Linked DNA regions of Homo sapiens. The protein of the gene in region 1 purifies or fractionates together with the protein of each later gene. This does not show direct contact. Each region holds a gene or a part of one and is shown in the gene's direction. Other genes may lie near its edges.

Region 1 (5,587 bases):
AAAGTCTGCACTCCAACAGGCTATTCTCTCTCAGTACTAAGTTAATGAGGTTATTTTGAGCATTAAATGAGTTAATGCTCACCGGGCGCGGTGGCTCATGCCTGTAATCCCAACACTTTGGGAGGCCTAGGCAGTTGGATCACCTGAGGTCAGGAGTTCAGGACCAGCCTGGCCAACATGGCGAAACCCCATCTCTCCTGAAAATACAAAAATTGGCCAGACATGGTGGCAGGAGCTTGTAATCCCAGCTACTTGGGAGGCTGAGGCACAAGAATTGCTTGAACCCGGTAGGCAGATGATGCAGTGAGCCAAGATCGCGCCACTGCACTCCAGCCTGGGCGACACAGCAAGACTCTTGTCTCAAAACAAACAAACAAATTAAAAAAACCTAAATTATATTGGTTGGTACTATCGTTATTTTGAGTTGTGAACTCTTAAGCCCCAAAATAGGAGGAAAAAAGGAAACAGAAGCTATGACCTTCCAGTTTTGTTTTGGTTTTTTTTTTAATTTCACAAAAACACCACTTAGAAGACCCTTCATTTTAAAGATGAGAAAACCAGTACTCAAGCAATTTGCCCAGTGTCACACAGCTAGGAAATGGTGGAAGTATCTGTAAAATCTCTATGTGCATTACTCTTTCTATTACACTAGACAGCCAAAGCTAAAAGAACAGTTCAGATACTAAAAGGATCTATTTTGTTACTGTGTTACCGACAGTTTGAAAACATTAATGATTCTTTTCAAAGGAAAGTGTTATATTCATGAATTACTACTATTTAAAAATTAATGTATAAAATGAGGAAAATTAAGTGACACCTTGTGTTATACACAGAAACATGCCCCTGATTCAGTGCCTCTGCTTAGCTGTAACATGTTAATCAGAACTACCTGGCATCTTCCTGAACAAGACTTTCAATAGGGGCCAGTATGCTTCGCTTCATCCAGAAGTTTTCTCAAGCATCTTCAAAGGTTGGTTTGTTCAGCAGATATTTGAGCACTATTTGCCAAATATTGCTTGGGCTAGGTCAGTAGCAGTGAAAAAGACAAAAATCCTTACCCTTGTATATTCAGGTGATGGAGGGAAGAGTTAAGTAAAATACAAGTAAGTAAAATGTTTATTATATCAGGCTGGGTGCAGTGGCTCACGCCTGTAGTCCCAGCAATTTGGCAGGCCGAGGTGGGTGGGATCACTTGAGCTCAAGGAGTTCAAGACCAGTCTGGGCACATGGCAAAACCCCATCTCTACAAAAAATTAGCTGGGCATGGGGTCACACGCCTATAGCCCCAGCTACCTGGGAGGCTGAGAGAGGAGGATCGCTTGAGCCCAGGAGGTTGAGGCTGCAGTGAGCTGAGATCATGCCACTGCACTGCAGCCTGGGTGACACAGCAAGACGATGTTTAAAAAAAAAAAAAATTGGCTAGGTGCCGTGGCTTACGGCTGAAATCCCAGCACTTTGGGAGTTGAGGCAGGTGGATCACTTGAGGTCAGGAGTTCAGTACCTGCCTGGCCAACATGGTAAAACCCTTGTCTCCACGGAAAAATACAAAAATTAGCTCAGCATGGTGGTAGGCGCCCGTAGTCCCAGCTACCTGGGGGGCTGAGGCAGAAGAATCACTTGAACCCAGGAAGCAAAGGTTGCAGTGAGCCGAGATTGTGCCACTGCACTCTGGCTTGGGTGACAGAGGAATAATTCATCTCAAAAAGTAAAAATTAAAAAAAATAAGGCCAGGCACGGTCACTCACTCCTGTAATCCCAAAACTTTGGGATGCCAAGGCGGGCAGATCACGTGAGGTCAGGAGTTCGAGACCAGCCTGGACAACATGGTGAAACCCTGTCTCTACTAAAAATACAAAAATTAGCTGGGCATGGTGGCGGACGCCTGTAATCCCAGCTACTCAGGAGGCTGAGGCAGAGAATCGCTTGAACCTGGGAGGCAGAGGTTGCAGTGAGCAGAGATTGTACCACTGCACTCCAGCCTGGGTGATAGAGCAAAACTCGGTCTCAAAAAAATAAAAATAAAAATTAATACATCAACTGGTAAATGCTGTGGAGAACTATAAAGCAGGGAAGGGCAATAGGTAGTGTCAAGACGTAGGATTGGACTTACAAATGGCAGGGGATCGGAAGTAGGTAACTGAGGGAAGAGCAGTAAATATGGAAACAGGGAAATGGTTCCAAGATGGAACCATTCCTAGCATGTTTGAGTAATCACTGAGATTCTTCAATAACTTCAATTTTTTCTTTAATGCAACACTTTTTAGTTGAAGTCTGGTCACTAAAACACAGAATCAGCAGGAAAGGTTATTACTTTGCCCGTGTACAATGAAAGGCAGTGGGGATTTTAAGGCAAGGAAAAAAATACGGTCCTGGCTCTCAAGTCTACTGAGACAAAGACAAGTAAACACACAATTTTAATTCACTGTGAGAAGAATTATGATGGAAGTGTGCACAGGGTGCTTACTATAGGAGCATTAAATCAGACCGTAGAAGGGTAAAGGAAAGCTTTAAGTTGAATTTTGAATGTTGAGGTAAGTTTCCTAGATAGGAAAGTAGTAAGAGCTAGAATTCTAGGCAGAGCATACACAAAGGTGTGGAACTGTGAAAAGTATGTGGTGTTCATAAAACTAAGTTGGAAGGTAGATTTATTTTCTCCATATAAAAACAGCATTCCCACGGTAATTAGTGCTGCTGCTTTTGCTATTTATAAATAAAAGAGGCAGTTTAGAAGGCCAAATTCTGAAGATCTAGTCTTTACCTGCTCCTCTTTCAGATATTTTTCTCATGGAATAAGATTAAGTGGTAGGTTGAAATATATCACTAGTTTGTGTTCAGTGGTTTCTTTTGTACATTGTATAGCCATTTAATACTCTTACCAGCAATAATATCACTTCAGAGTTATTAGTTCATCCTTTCTGTATAGTTTGATGTGGTAATGGAAAGCAGATCTTTTTTGTTTGCTCCTTTCAAACAATCCCCATTATTTCATACTGGGATTGACTAAAATCTGATGATACATATATATATTTTTAATTTTGTCTTTTGGTTCTATTTTCTTTGTAGATACTGAAGTACTCTTTCCCAGTGGGACTAAGAACCAGCAGAACAGATATACTTTCTCTCAAGATGTCTCTCCAGCAAAACTTTTCCCCATGTCCAAGGCCTTGGCTTTCCTCATCATTTCCAGCGTATATGAGCAAGACACAGTGCTATCATACATCCCCCTGCAGCTTTAAAAAGCAGCAGAAGCAAGCACTTCTAGCCAGACCCTCAAGCACCATCACTTACCTAACTGACAGCCCAAAGCCAGCATTATGTGTAACTCTGGCAGGACTAATCCCCTTCGTTGCTCCACCACTGGTCATGCTGATGACAAAAACTTATATTCCCATATTAGCTTTTACTCAGATGGCTTATGGAGCCAGTTTCCTATCTTTCTTGGGTGGGATCAGATGGGGTTTTGCTCTACCAGAAGGTAGTCCAGCCAAACCAGACTACCTTAATTTAGCTAGCAGTGCAGCTCCTCTTTTCTTTTCATGGTTTGCCTTCCTTATTTCTGAAAGACTTAGTGAAGCCATAGTCACAGTAATAATGGGTATGGGAGTAGCATTCCACCTTGAACTTTTTCTCTTACCACATTATCCCAACTGGTTTAAAGCCCTGAGGATAGTAGTCACTTTATTGGCCACTTTTTCATTTATAATCACTTTAGTAGTTAAAAGTAGTTTTCCAGAAAAAGGACATAAGAGACCTGGTCAAGTATAAAAAATATAAAAGTCTGGGAAGTGAGGAGCACCTCTGCCCAGCTGCTGCCCCGTCTGGGAAGTGAGGAGCGCCTCTGCCTGGCCGCCTGACCATCTGGGAAGTGTGACAAGCGCCTCTGCCCGGCCGCTGTGCAACCTTCCACGTGTGAAGTGACAGCCTTGTGTGTGATCTTTTCTGTCTTCCCCAAGTTTGCATTTTCGACATTAAAGTTTACTTTTTAGTTAAAAGTTTTAAAAATATATATATATAAATACACTGTAGATAACATTTGTATGCCAGCTACACCTTTTTCTACTTCTGTTTGGCTTTTTTTCCCCACACCAATGGTAATTTATCTTCACAGATTGTTCTTCATTTCTAGAAATTGTTACTTCATGGTAATTACTTGAGCAAAAGCTTGAAAATCCCTGACAAGTACTTTTCATCTCATAGTATATTAGTTTTCACTCAGTCATTTTATGAATAATATAGTTATCCACTTAAACATTTCAATATTTTAACCATCTTGAAAATTAAAGATTAAAAATCCCCTTTGTTAGAGTCTTGTGATCATTGAAAAGAATGCACATATTCTCCCACTTCAAGCGGAAAACCTCGTATCTGTGAGTATCTGAAAAGAAAAGGTAGTTCCATTGAGTTTTCACAGGAGTTACCACTGGGAAAGGCATGTCCAAACTTATTTCACATGGTATAACCCAATTATATGAGCTAAAAGGATCTATGGCTCTAAAGTCAGTAGGGAGCAGTGTCATGAGGGAAAGCCACATTCAAAGGTAAGTTGGACATGTTTTCCAGTTTTTATTAGGATATTTGGCATGGTACAGATAACAACTTGTCCCTTACCACCAAACACATAATAGCTGGTCAAAATGATTATTTTCAAAGGAAACTATTTAAAATAAAGCCACTAGTACATATAAATTAGGAAAGAAAAGTCAAGCTGGAGCCATCTTGATATTCTAATGAGCAGGCCTATCTAGTTCTACATCTTTTTTTTTGAGATGGAGTTTCATTCTGTCGCCTAGGCTGGAGTGCAGTGGCACGATCTTGGCTCACCGCAACCTCCACCTCCCGAGTTCAAGCGATTCTCCTGCCTCAGCATCTCTAGAGTAGCTGGGATTATAGGCACGTGCCACCATGCCCAACTAATTTTTTGGTGTGTATTTTTAGTAGAGGTGGCATTTCACCATGTTGGACAGGCTGGTCTAGTTCTACATCTTTTAAATCACAGAGAAGCTTTTAGCTTTGGTGTGTTTTTGTTTTTGTTTTGTTTTGTTTAAACGCAGGGTCTCACTCTTGCTCAGGCCAGAGTGTAGTGGTGTGGTCATGGCTCACTGCAGCCTCGACCTCCTGGGCTCAAGCAATTCTCCCACCTCAGCCTCCTGAGTAGCTGGGACTACAGTTGTGCACCACTATGCCAAGCTAATTTTTTAATTTTTTGTAGAGACAGGGTCTCCCTATGTTGCCCAGGCTGGTCTTGAACTGAGCTCAAGCAATCCTCCTGCCTAGGCTCCCAAAGTGTTAGGATTGCAGGCGTGAGCCACTGCACCCAGTGCAGAAGCTTTCTTAAAACAGCAAAAGCAACACCTTAGATTTTCACTTGAAAACGTAGTCTCTAATCACTCTACTTAAGGTGGAGAAAAAAAGAATTAACAGAAAACCTAGTTTTCTGAAATTCCTAGTCTCACCAAAAAGGAAAAACATTAAAAATGGTCTAAGGATTAAAAATGGTCTAAGGATATAGATCAGGATATAGTATAACCTGGAATTTTTTTTTTTTTTAGATGGAGTTTCACTCTTGTTGCCCAGGCTGGAGTGCAAT
Region 2 (3,500 bases), on another chromosome or scaffold:
TCACGTGGCTACCATCTGGTGATTAGAGGTTCTGATTGGCAGTTAAAGTTCTTTCATAAAAGTTGAAAAAACAAGTTTTTTTAATAAGGGAAATTTCTTGAGAGGACACAACTTTTTAAATATGGTCAGTGGGGAAAAAAACTTGGAAAGGTAATGAAGAATTTGAGAACCATCAGGCTAGTCAAACCCTTCATCTCACTGTAAATGACTCACTTGAGGCCCCATGGCTAGCGAAGTACTTAAACCAGAACCAGATCCCCTAACTCCCAGTCTAAGGCTCTAGGTTTTGCCTTCTTTTTCTTTCTTTCTTTCGTATTATTAGGCTTTTTGTTCAAATGCTTGGGGTTGATTATAGGATATGTTCATTTCAGGCAAATTCATAATTCTGAAATGTAGCTAATGATAGTGCTCTAGAAATTATTCTGATTTTAGTGGTCTTTTACCTTGTGGAAGAGAATTTATTCCTGAAAAACCTGTGGTAGTATGAATCATCTTACATCAAAAATGTGATAAACGATTCTTTAGTAGTTCATAATGCTATGATTGGGTTTCCATGTGCACATGTAAGATGTGCCTCTCTCAAGCCTTGTTGTGACATCAGCACATTACCCATCTGATGAGAAAAAAAAACAGTTATTGAAATTAATTCATACAGTTCTATACTTAAAATACTTGTAATATTCAGTTTTATGTGGTTGAATATTTAATGGAAAAAAACTCCAAGAAATTAGAACAGTAAAGAAAAAAAGCATACAAATAAAACAATGCTAATACATAAGATTGTCATTACCGTCAATTGATAGTCCACAAATACTCGGAGCAGAGAACTCAGTGAGACGTGCTCATTCTCGACCAGGAAGCTGATCGTATGAATGGTGATTTGCCTTTCAAGACACTCACCTGCTCTCTAGAGTATTGAAGTCAAAATGGTCTCATTAAATATGAAGAAATGCCTCGAATGCAAAAGTAGAGTTACTGTATCAAATTCCTTATAAAGTTGGGAATTCTTGAAAACCTGAATAGCTGTGTCTTGGAGTGTGACAGTATTTTCTGGCTAATATTCTGCCTTAGCTCGTTAGACCGTGGCCTCAGATTTTACTGTCTATTCAATGATTTTATATATATATTTTTTTGTTTTTGCTTTTTTCAACGATTAAATAAATGTAGATAGTCAGTAACATGAAGCAGCCTCAGAGAGGATTCATCACAGGGAGAAAGCATTCCCTTCTGGGTGGAACTCATGCAGAGCTTTCTGTTAGTGGAGTAATTTTTTATGTAAGAGGGTACTTTTCCTTAAGTTAAAAAGATGTGGATAGTAGAAATAACTGATTTACTTGCTAGTCAGTGAATTGAAAAAAATCTTGTTTTCTGTTTTCTTTTTTTTTTTTTTGAGACGGAGTTTTGCTCTTGTTGTCCAGGCTGGAGTGCAGTGGCACGATCTCAGCTCACTGCAACCTCCTCCTCCCGGGTTCAAGCGATTCTCCTGCCTCAGCCTCCCGAGTAGCTGGGATTACAGGCATGTTCCACCACACCCAGCTAATTTTGTATTTTTAGTAGAGACGGGGTTTCTCCATGTTGGTCAGGCTGGTCTTGAACTCCTGACCTCAGGTGATCCGCCTGCCTCGGCCTCCCAAAGTGCTGGGATTACAGGCATGAGCCACCACACCCGGCCTTGTTTTCTGTTTTCTATATATGGTTTAATATTATATCCATGTTTCTTATGGACCAGAGGAAAGTAACTGTGAGGGAGAGGTTTTGATGGGAAGGGCTGGAATAACAATTTGTTGACTTACGTGGTTAAGGCAAAGGATGATCTGTTTATCAAATGAATTGTTAAAATATTAATGGTTTTTCCCAGAATGTGACAGAGCTGAAGCTTTCTGATAATCCTGCCTGGGAAGGGGATAAAGGAAACACTAAAGGTGACAAGCACGATGACCTCCAGCGGGCGCGTTTCATCTGCCCCGTTGTGGGCCTGGAGATGAACGGCCGACACAGGTTAGTGACGGACCTGGGACAGATGATGTGGGAGGCTGGAGGAATACTGCCGGTTTTGGTGGCAGTGGTGCCGGAGCTTAGCAGTCATGTGGCTTGCTTTCTGGTGTCCTTGGGTTTGGTGGCGCCTTGGAGGAAATGGTGCTTGGTCATGAGCACGTTCATTTCCGTCAGCCATTGCTACGGGACTTCCAGCGAGATCCAGCCTGGTCTGCGGCCTTCCGTTCTTGAGGTGGGGAAACAAAACCTGAAGTGAAGTGGGATTCTGAAAAGTTCTCATGTGACGCTTATGAAACCTGAGTTTAGTTCTTAGATCATCTTTTCCTGTGGGACAGAAAGCAAAGAGCAAATGTTTCCTATCAAGCAAATCCCATTTCCTTCCTGTTACTAATTTTTAATTTTTATTATGTTTTATAGTTTTATTTTTATCCTTTTTTTTTAAGTAGAAATAAGGTCTCACTTTGTTGCCCAGGCTGGTCTTGAATTCCTGGCCTCAAGCGATCCTCCTGCCTCAGCATCCCAAAGTGCTGGGATTGTAGGCGTAAGCCACCACGCCCGGCCACTAATTTTTATTTTTGTAGAGATAGGGTCTCCCTATGTTGCCCAGGCTGGATTCAAATTCCTGGCCTTTAACGATCCTCCCAAAGCGCTGGGATAACATGTGGGAGCCACTGCACCTGATTACAAATGCCAAAAGTTATGCAGTAACAGGCAGAGTTATAGAACCTGTGGTTAATCAGTCAACCAAAGGCTCAAAAACATGGTAATTTGCCTTGAATTTGTAGCTAACAGATTCTCTGGCTGTAGCACTGGGAATCTTATGGTTGAGATGTGTGTAGCAAATGTAAGCAACCTGTATATTTTCCTCTTTAAAAAATACGGACGGTTGAATGGGTTAGTACATGCTTTTTCATAGGATGTCTCACTAAGCAAAAGCGTTAAGCCCTTTCCCCCACTTTTGAGAAGTACAGTCATACCTCGGAGATATTGTGGGTTCTATTCCAGACTACCACAATAAAACAAATATTACTGGAAAGCAAGTCACACAAAATTTTGGTTTCTTAGTACATATAAAAGTTGCCTTTAGCAGCTCACAGTGGCTCCCACCTATAATCCCAGCACTTTGGGAGGCCGAGACAGGAGGATTGCTAGAGGCTAGGAGTTAGAGACCAGCCTGGGTAACATAGTGAGACCCTGTCTTTACGAAACAAAATTTTTTTTTAATTAGCCAGCCATGGTGGCATGTACCTATAGACCTCGCTACTTGGGAGGCTGAGGCAGGAGGATTGCTTGAGCCCAGGAATTCAAGGCTGCAGTGAGGTATGATCATGCCACTGCAGAGCCTGGGTGACAGAGTGGGACCCTGTCTCAAAAAAGAAAGTTATGTTTATACTATAGTCTAGTCTTTTAAGTGTGCAATAGCATTATGTCTAAAAACAAAGTACCTATCTTAATTAAAAATTATTGCTAAAGAATGCTAGCAATCACCTGAACCTTCAGCGAGT
Region 3 (4,137 bases), on another chromosome or scaffold:
CTGCTCACTGCAACCTCTGCTTCCCAGGTTCAAGCGATTTTCCTGACTTACCCTACTGAGTAGCTGGGACTATAGGTGCGCACCACCACACCCAGCTACTTTTTTTGTATCTTCAGTAGAGACGGGATTTCACCATGTTGGCCAGGCTGGTCTCGAACTCCTGACCTCAGGTGATCCATCCGCCTCAGCCTCCCCACGTGCTGGGATTACAGGTGTGAGCCACCGCGCCCGGCGGAGACACGGCATATTTGATAAACTGAGAAGAGTCAGCATGGGGAGAACTAAGGGATAGCAGTACAAGGCATACCTGAAGAAGGGGTCATGCTGGAGGGTCTCAGAGGCCATTTTAAGGACATTAGCTTTATTCTAAGAGCAATGGGACATCATTGATGGATTTTAATCATTGTTGGGTTGTGACAGGATCAGGTTTAATTAATCAATTTTAAATTCCCTTCTTTTCACAGGTGTTGAAAATTATAAAAATCACTTTGGTTTTGTGAAGAACGCATTAGAGGGATCACAACTGGAGACAGTCACGGGAGTTTGGAGTTACTGGAGAAATTCTGCCGAGAGGGGGTAAGTGCATGAATTGTGGCAATGGGGATGGGGGTGAATGGATGGATTTGAAAGACAATTAGGAGGTAAGCGCAATTAAGTGTATGAGAAACTTTGGGGTATGAAGAAGAGGGAGATTCCTCAGATTTCTAGCTGGACCAACAGGATGGATGGCAGCGCCCTTCACCAGGAAAAAAGTGAGCTGATGGAAGAACATAAGGTGAAATTTGAATTCATGGGGTTTGAGGTGACTGAGTGAGGATGTCCAACAGACGTTTGGCCATATTGGCCTGAAAATCAGAAGAGAGGTTTGAGATGGAGAGCCAACTGTGCCCATATGGTAAGATGCTACAGGCGGCATTCCTTCTGTCCTCCCGTCCTTCGTTCAAAATCTGTTGAGATGTCCCATAGGCTGGATGTTGGGGATACAGCAGGGAACAAGAACACTGCGTTCGCTCAACCAGTTTACCATCTACCTCTCTGAACTTGTTCTTAGTCTGTAAAATGAAGATAATGATAAGATTAAGTAAGATGAGGTCGTGTGAGGGCACCTAGCACTTACAATTTTTGTATTGGTTTCTCTTCCTCAGAGCCAAAGGAGGAGATAGTTACTTTTGCTTTTGCAGCCTTTTCCGGGCGGCTTTTCCGCGCAGGCGCCCCTGGACCTCCCAGGTTGAGAGGTGGAGCGGGCCAAACCTCAGCTGCCTTTCCCGGGGCCGGGACCCGGCCGGGGGAGGACCGAGGCGCGGCGCTGTCCGTGACGTCATCAGGCTGCGCTGCCCGCAGTACTGGACCCGAGCGCGACGGTGCGGCTGGCGGACCCGGGCTGGCTTGTGGGGAAACGAAACTGAGGGAGGAGGCGGCGGCTCTGGCAGCGGCGGCGACAGTGTCGGCCTGACCCCCCCTCCGCTCCCCGGCAGCTCGCTCTCTCCCCTCAGCGTGAGTGCCGACGCGCGGCCCGGGGGGAGCAAGCGGGCGGGCGCGCGGGCTCAGCATCCTTCTCCCCTCCACCGCCGCCTGGGCCCCCCGCCCGCGGTTATGGGTCTCCTCGCCTTCTGGCCCCTTATGTCTTCCCTCCTCCTCCCACCCCCAACGCCGGCTCCCTGGAGCCCGAGCTGCCGCTGACACACGTCTCTGCGCACACATTCACACGCTCATGTTATCTTCAAATGAAGGGACTGGCCGGGAGACATGGGAGCTTATCTCTTCTCTCTGTGATTAGGGGTGGCAGTGCCAAACCGAGGCCCAGGGAGAGAAGACTGCAGAGGGGATTTGAACCCCTTCTGTGCGGAAGCAGCAGGTAGAACCAGGCCGCTTGCCTTCCGCTTAGAAGTTCCCTGCCAGAGCATTCTGCTGGCATGTGTGGGTCACTTGAGCAGGGCACTGGTTAGCTGTGTGGCCTTCACCTCTGTGGCCGCAGTCTTTTCCCGTGGAAGATGATAGGGTTGGATGAGATGATTTGGAAGGCCCAAATCTAAGGTGATGTGGTTTGGGGAGGAGCATCCGCCTCTCCTGCCTTTCACACAGCTGTTCAACAGTCCGCTTTGAGTTTGCTGTACTTCCAGTCTCCCCCCGAGTCACTTAAGAATTAAAAGCTTTTAGCGCTTGCAATGGCTAGAAGCAAGCTCTGTGATGAGCCTTCCTTTATCTCACCCTGGGGGCCTTTTGGGGGTATTTAAGACTACGGCTTAAAGTGAAATGTGGCTTAGCTTGGTCTTGCTTTCTGTTTGCTCAGTGTCTCCGGTTCTTCCCTGGGACAGCCCCTGCCTGTATCTAGTAAGAGGCTGCTTTCTCAGGAAGGTGGCGGTTGTGCATTGGGTTGATTGGCTCTTCCTTGAGTTGGAGAGAACTGAAACATGTGATCCAGGGTTTTACGAGGTTGGGAGCATCAGTGACACTTTTGGGTTTCAATACTTTCTTGCTGTACCTCGCCTTCCCTAAGGATTGTTTCCCAGCTTGTCGCCCACCCTGTATTGAGTCCTCTTTTCTGAGTTCTCTACAGCCAATCAGTTGTGTGTAAGCCACACTGTATTCACTACTTCTCTTGCTTGCTCTTTAACTTGATAATTCGTTAAGATTTCAGGGTTTCATAATCACTTCATTCCATCTTATTTTTTTCTCGTGCTTATCTCTCATGTACCTAACCATGGGGATGGATGATTGATGGTGGCATGGTGCCTGTTTCTTTCTTTTTTGTTTTTTTGAGACGGAGTCTTGCTCTGTCGCCCAGGGTGGAGTGCAGTGGTGTGATCTCGGCTCACTGCAACCTCCGCCTCAGCAATTCAAGCGGTTCTCCTGAGTAGCTGGGACTACAGGCATGTGCCACCACCCGGCTAATTTTTGTGTTTTTTTTACTAGAGATGGGGTTTCACCATGTTGGCCAGGCTGGTCTTGAACTCCTGACCTCAGGTGATCCGCCCACCTCTTTCTCCCAAAGTGCTGGGATTACAGGCGTGAGCCACCGCGCCCAGCTGGTTTCCACTCTTTTTTGTGGAGGTGGATTTCTGTCCTTAAAATTGTTGTTTTCGTAACTGAGTTCTGTGGTATAGCTACCTCCAGTCCCAATAACTTTCCCGCTCTTGTGTTTCCTCGGTCTTAAGTCATTTCACTGCTTCCATTCCCTACTCTGCTTAAAAACTTTCCCAATTCTTTCATGTTTTCAAACATTATGAAGTAAACCAAAACCAGTATTTTTATGATATTATGTAATTTCTTAATTGTTTTGGTAAAATAATGCTGATGAAACAGTCATTCTGGGATGGTCCCTTCACCTTGGGAATATTGGTTAATATTTATTCGGTTTTATAGTTCATTTTCAGTGTACATTGTCATGCATGGCCAATATTGCATCAAAAGTGTAGAATAACTACAGGTACCAAGGCTTTATCCCCCAGTGGCTTGTGGAGTTGATCCATGACTTTCTGTTATCTGACACCAGTGGCCCAGGGCTCTCTCAGTCTGTGAGCACCACATTTTCCAGTAAAACAGCTATTATTGAAAACCAACACTTGTCTAGCATCCTTCCTAGACCTCATTCTGAGGAAGAGGCTATTCAAGTGCTGGCACTGGAAGATGTGTAGAATTGCCAAATCTCATCCCATTGATGATTTACACTTTGGAATCCCTGCTGTGATCCCAGTGGCTGTGACCCAAGGGCAGCTGACTGACTGGATTTATGGTTACAGTTAACGATGAAGAGGAGAACTGACCCAGAATGCACTGCCCCCATCAAGAAACAGAAAAAAAGAGTTGCAGAGCTTGCCCTGAGCCTCAGCTCCACGTCCGATGATGAACCTCCCTCCTCTGTCAGTCATGGAGCAAAAGGTACGTGTGCTTGTGTGGTCTGAGGCCACTGGCCATCTGGTTATTTGAACACACAGTGTCTAATCTAGGTGGAGCAGACTATAGTCCACTGCCCCTTGGTCCCTTGAGGAAAATTAGGAATACTCTACAGAGAGATGTTGGCTATAGACTCTTTTCCCTTCTGCCATTCTCCTACTAAGAGTGGGGAAACTTGTTTTAAATAAAAAATGGTAATTTTTCCAGAAGTTGCTTTCTGTTGGTTGTCCTTCAGTAGGTGGC
Region 4 (3,362 bases), on another chromosome or scaffold:
TATGAATATATGTGGAATATATATGTGTAAATATATTCTAAGTGATTAGATTGAAGATTTCATCTTTATGTAAATGGAGAGATGCTGCACTGATTTGTGTCTTTTTCAGGAGGAGTCATCTAAGGCTTTGGGAAAGAACAAAAAAGTAAGAAAAGACAAGAAGAGGAATGAACATTAATACCTGAAACTATAGGAAAGGTTAATTTGCCTATAATTATATATACATTCCATAGTCATCAAGGAATATATTGTGCAGAGAGAGTATCCTTGACTGCTTAAGTCAGCCAGTTCAGCATGGATACCAACATTAGCTTTTCTTCTTGGTTATATCATCTGCCAAAAATAGAGAACTTATGATCTATTCATGTGTGTTTCAGGCTTATTTGGGAGAACTAATTTGAACTTAATCACCACTTCATCTAATTTTAGCAAGGTAACAGTTGCCCAGGGCAGTACCTGAATTAACTGTCCATTTCAGTACATGTCAAGTGCCTTTGTTAGGTGGAGAAGAAATGTCTCTAGAGGAATATAAATACCTGATTTCTTGTCATCGAGATTCTTGTACTGTTAAATGAATATTGCCTTTTACTGCTCTTTATGGCTTATTGGAATAGGAGCTCATTTAAGATTGATCTTGGAGAGTTTCTTCTTGTGATTTTAGTTCATAAGTATGTCACCTTTCATTTTATAGTGTTCATCATTGAGTAATGGATTAAGTGAAAATCCAGGAGTATCCATCTGCAGTTATGTGCTGAGGTGATAATTCATCCAACATATTTGTTAGCATAAATATTATGCTTCAGTTTCTGTTGCAAATTGGTGATTGTGAAATTACAGAAAGTGATTTTCTAGTCTGCTTTTTTTGTTTAATTCTTGTAATGTAAGCAATAAATATGGAGTGTCAGTAGTCTCCTTCCACCCCAGAAATGTGTTGGTGTAACATTCTCGTTTCTTTTAACAACCTGGAAGTACCTTTCTTGTGATCTTCACTGAGGAATTAGAACTATGATAGAAGTTAGGCTGTGGCAAATGGGACATTCGTAGAGTGGGATAGAGGTGGCAGAATGAACCTGGTGTAGGGCAGGAGTATGTTGTGTAGTTACATCAATTTGATGCATGCTTTCCATCTGCACTCCAGACGGCTTTCTCAGTTCCAAGATTTTGCAGAGAGAAGGAGCAAACCTTTTCATTGGAAAAACAGAAACAACCCTCCCCCCCATTTTTTCCCCTCTATTCATCAAACCTTTATGTATCTTTCATCTTCCAGTTACCTCTAGGCATTTAGATAGTGAAATTTACCTTTGAGATATAACAATAAGTGATTAACTGTTCACTTTCAGATGTAATGGCAAACAATTGTTAAAAGTTATTAACTGATCACAGATTTGCCTGGACTTCCCTTCCCAGGGAGGGAACAGAAGTTAGGAGGCAACTTTGGGATGGTGCTAGAGCATGGAAAGCACAGAGAATTGGACAAACAGGTCTTTTTCTCTTTTCTCTGATGTTTTACCTTTAAAAGATCCAACATCCTTACCGTTGGTATTTTTAGTAAGGTTATAGTAAATAGCTTTACACCAGGATGGATTCTGAAATATAAATTCTAAATTATATTTGTTATAACTATATTTTATGTTGTATGTTATCAGGAGCCATCAGAGAATGACCTTTTTGTGTTTGGAACACTTGGTTCCATGAAAAGTATGCTTTGTGTTTTAACTGTTAAAATAATTTAAAAATTAATTATTTTACATAATTAAAGAAGTTAAAAACTATTAACATTAAATAATTTCACAATTTCAACATGTCAAACCTATGAAGGGAGATAGGAAACAATGAGAAACTTACTTTTGCTCCTTTATACAGAATTATTAACTATATTTTACTAACTAAAAAACTCTAGTATTCTTTACCTAAAGTCAATTGGCTGGTAAGAGGGAGAGATGCAAAATTCTCCAGCTCTGAACTTGGAGCTACTTCACACTCTACTCTTAATGGAAACTTGAACTAATGATAGATAGTATTTTTTTCCTCTATTTAAAATTTTTGTCTTGATTAGGAGATTTTTCAGTTCTCCATATAATAATTTTCTACAATCAGATCTATGCTGTGGCATATTTTGCTTTATTTAAAAATTTTTTTTTAGAGATGAGTTCTTGCTCTGTCACCTAGGCTGGAGTGCAGTGGCATGATCATGGCTCACTGCAGCCTTGACCTTCCAGCCTGCCAAGTAGCTGGGATTACAGACAGGCATGTGCTATTACACCTGGCTAATTTTTAAAGTTTTTTTTGTAAAGATAGGGTCTTTCTATGTTGCCCAGGCTCGTCTTGAGCTCCTGGCCTCAATCGATCTTCCTGCCAAGGTTTTGGAATTACAGGTGTGAGCCACCATGCCTGGCCTGCTTTGACATATTTTATAGTGTGTTAATTACAAATAGTCTTCATATGCCAGAATATAAGAGCAAGTGTTATCTACTTTTTAGATGGGAATTGCAGAAGCTGCATCAAAAGTATGCTTTGAGGTATATATAGTGAAACAGAGCCTTTCTGAAGAGAATTATATCAAACTAATTACAACCAAGAAATAATAGTATGAAGCGGATGCTGTTTGGAGGACAGGAAAATTTATCGGGAAAATTACATAATCCCTCTGATTCCACTATCCAGAGATAGCCATTATTATTAATATTTGGTATGTACATCCTTATATTATTTTTTTCTTATGCATGATTTTGTATATATGGTTATTTTTCTTTCCATAAAAATGGTATTAAACTGTATATACTGTTTTGTAGCCTACATATTTCATATAGAAGTATATTGTTAACATTTTCCATGTCAATAAATATTCTTCTATGGCTTAAATGTCTTATGACTGCATTGTATTCTGTCTTCTCAGTATTATACTAACTAGTCCTCCACTTATTTCCAATTTTTAAGTTTTTTTCAACTTTTCACTGTTATAAACAACTGTGAAAACCTACATCATTTGCAGATTTTTGTATGTATCTTTGATTATTTCTTTAGGAAAAGCTCCTAGATATCGAATTTCTTGGTCAAGGTTTGTACATTCTAATAGCTTTTGATTAGTTGAGTCAGATTGTCATCCAGGAAAGTGTTATCAGTGATTGCTCCATTAATATTGTGTTGGAATATTTAATACCAGCCAAAGATGGGAAAAAATAGGCAGTTTGCTTGATAACTCCCAAGATCCTTTTTAAAAAAGTAAACTTTTTGGCCAGGCACAGTGTCTCACGTCTGTAATCCCAGCATTTTGGGTGGCTGAGGCAGGCGGATCACTTGAGGTCAGGAGGTTGAGACCAGCCTGACCAACATGGTCAAACCTGTCTCTACTAAAAATACAA

The links. Proteins that work in one complex are often made in the same cells at the same time.
Region 2: the proteins of TMEM69 (region 1) and RTF2 purify together in Homo sapiens (affinity purification with mass spectrometry; one large-scale study listed by BioGRID and IntAct). This does not show direct contact.
Region 3: the proteins of TMEM69 (region 1) and CMTR1 purify together in Homo sapiens (affinity purification with mass spectrometry; one large-scale study listed by BioGRID and IntAct). This does not show direct contact.
Region 4: the proteins of TMEM69 (region 1) and IMPACT purify together in Homo sapiens (affinity purification with mass spectrometry; one large-scale study listed by BioGRID and IntAct). This does not show direct contact.

What each region holds. Positions count from the first base shown.
Region 1 is NC_000001.11:45,690,141-45,695,727, forward strand, and holds the end of TMEM69 (transmembrane protein 69), read left to right. Parts: intron 1-833; 5' UTR 834-928; coding exon 929-970; intron 971-3,063; coding exon 3,064-3,765; 3' UTR 3,766-4,277; downstream 4,278-5,587.
Region 2 is NC_000020.11:56,475,127-56,478,626, forward strand, and holds part of RTF2 (replication termination factor 2), read left to right. Parts: intron 1-516; exon of another isoform or gene 517-619; intron 620-1,858; coding exon 1,859-1,998; intron 1,999-3,500. UniProt on the Homo sapiens protein: Replication termination factor which is a component of the elongating replisome. Required for ATR pathway signaling upon DNA damage and has a positive activity during DNA replication.
Region 3 is NC_000006.12:37,431,884-37,436,020, forward strand, and holds the start of CMTR1 (cap-specific mRNA (nucleoside-2'-O-)-methyltransferase 1), read left to right. Parts: upstream 1-1,337; 5' UTR 1,338-1,494; intron 1,495-3,740; 5' UTR 3,741-3,746; coding exon 3,747-3,879; intron 3,880-4,137. UniProt on the Homo sapiens protein: S-adenosyl-L-methionine-dependent methyltransferase that mediates mRNA cap1 2'-O-ribose methylation to the 5'-cap structure of mRNAs.
Region 4 is NC_000018.10:24,450,670-24,454,031, forward strand, and holds the end of IMPACT (protein IMPACT), read left to right. Parts: intron 1-109; coding exon 110-178; 3' UTR 179-2,862; downstream 2,863-3,362. UniProt on the Homo sapiens protein: Translational regulator that ensures constant high levels of translation upon a variety of stress conditions, such as amino acid starvation, UV-C irradiation, proteasome inhibitor treatment and glucose deprivation.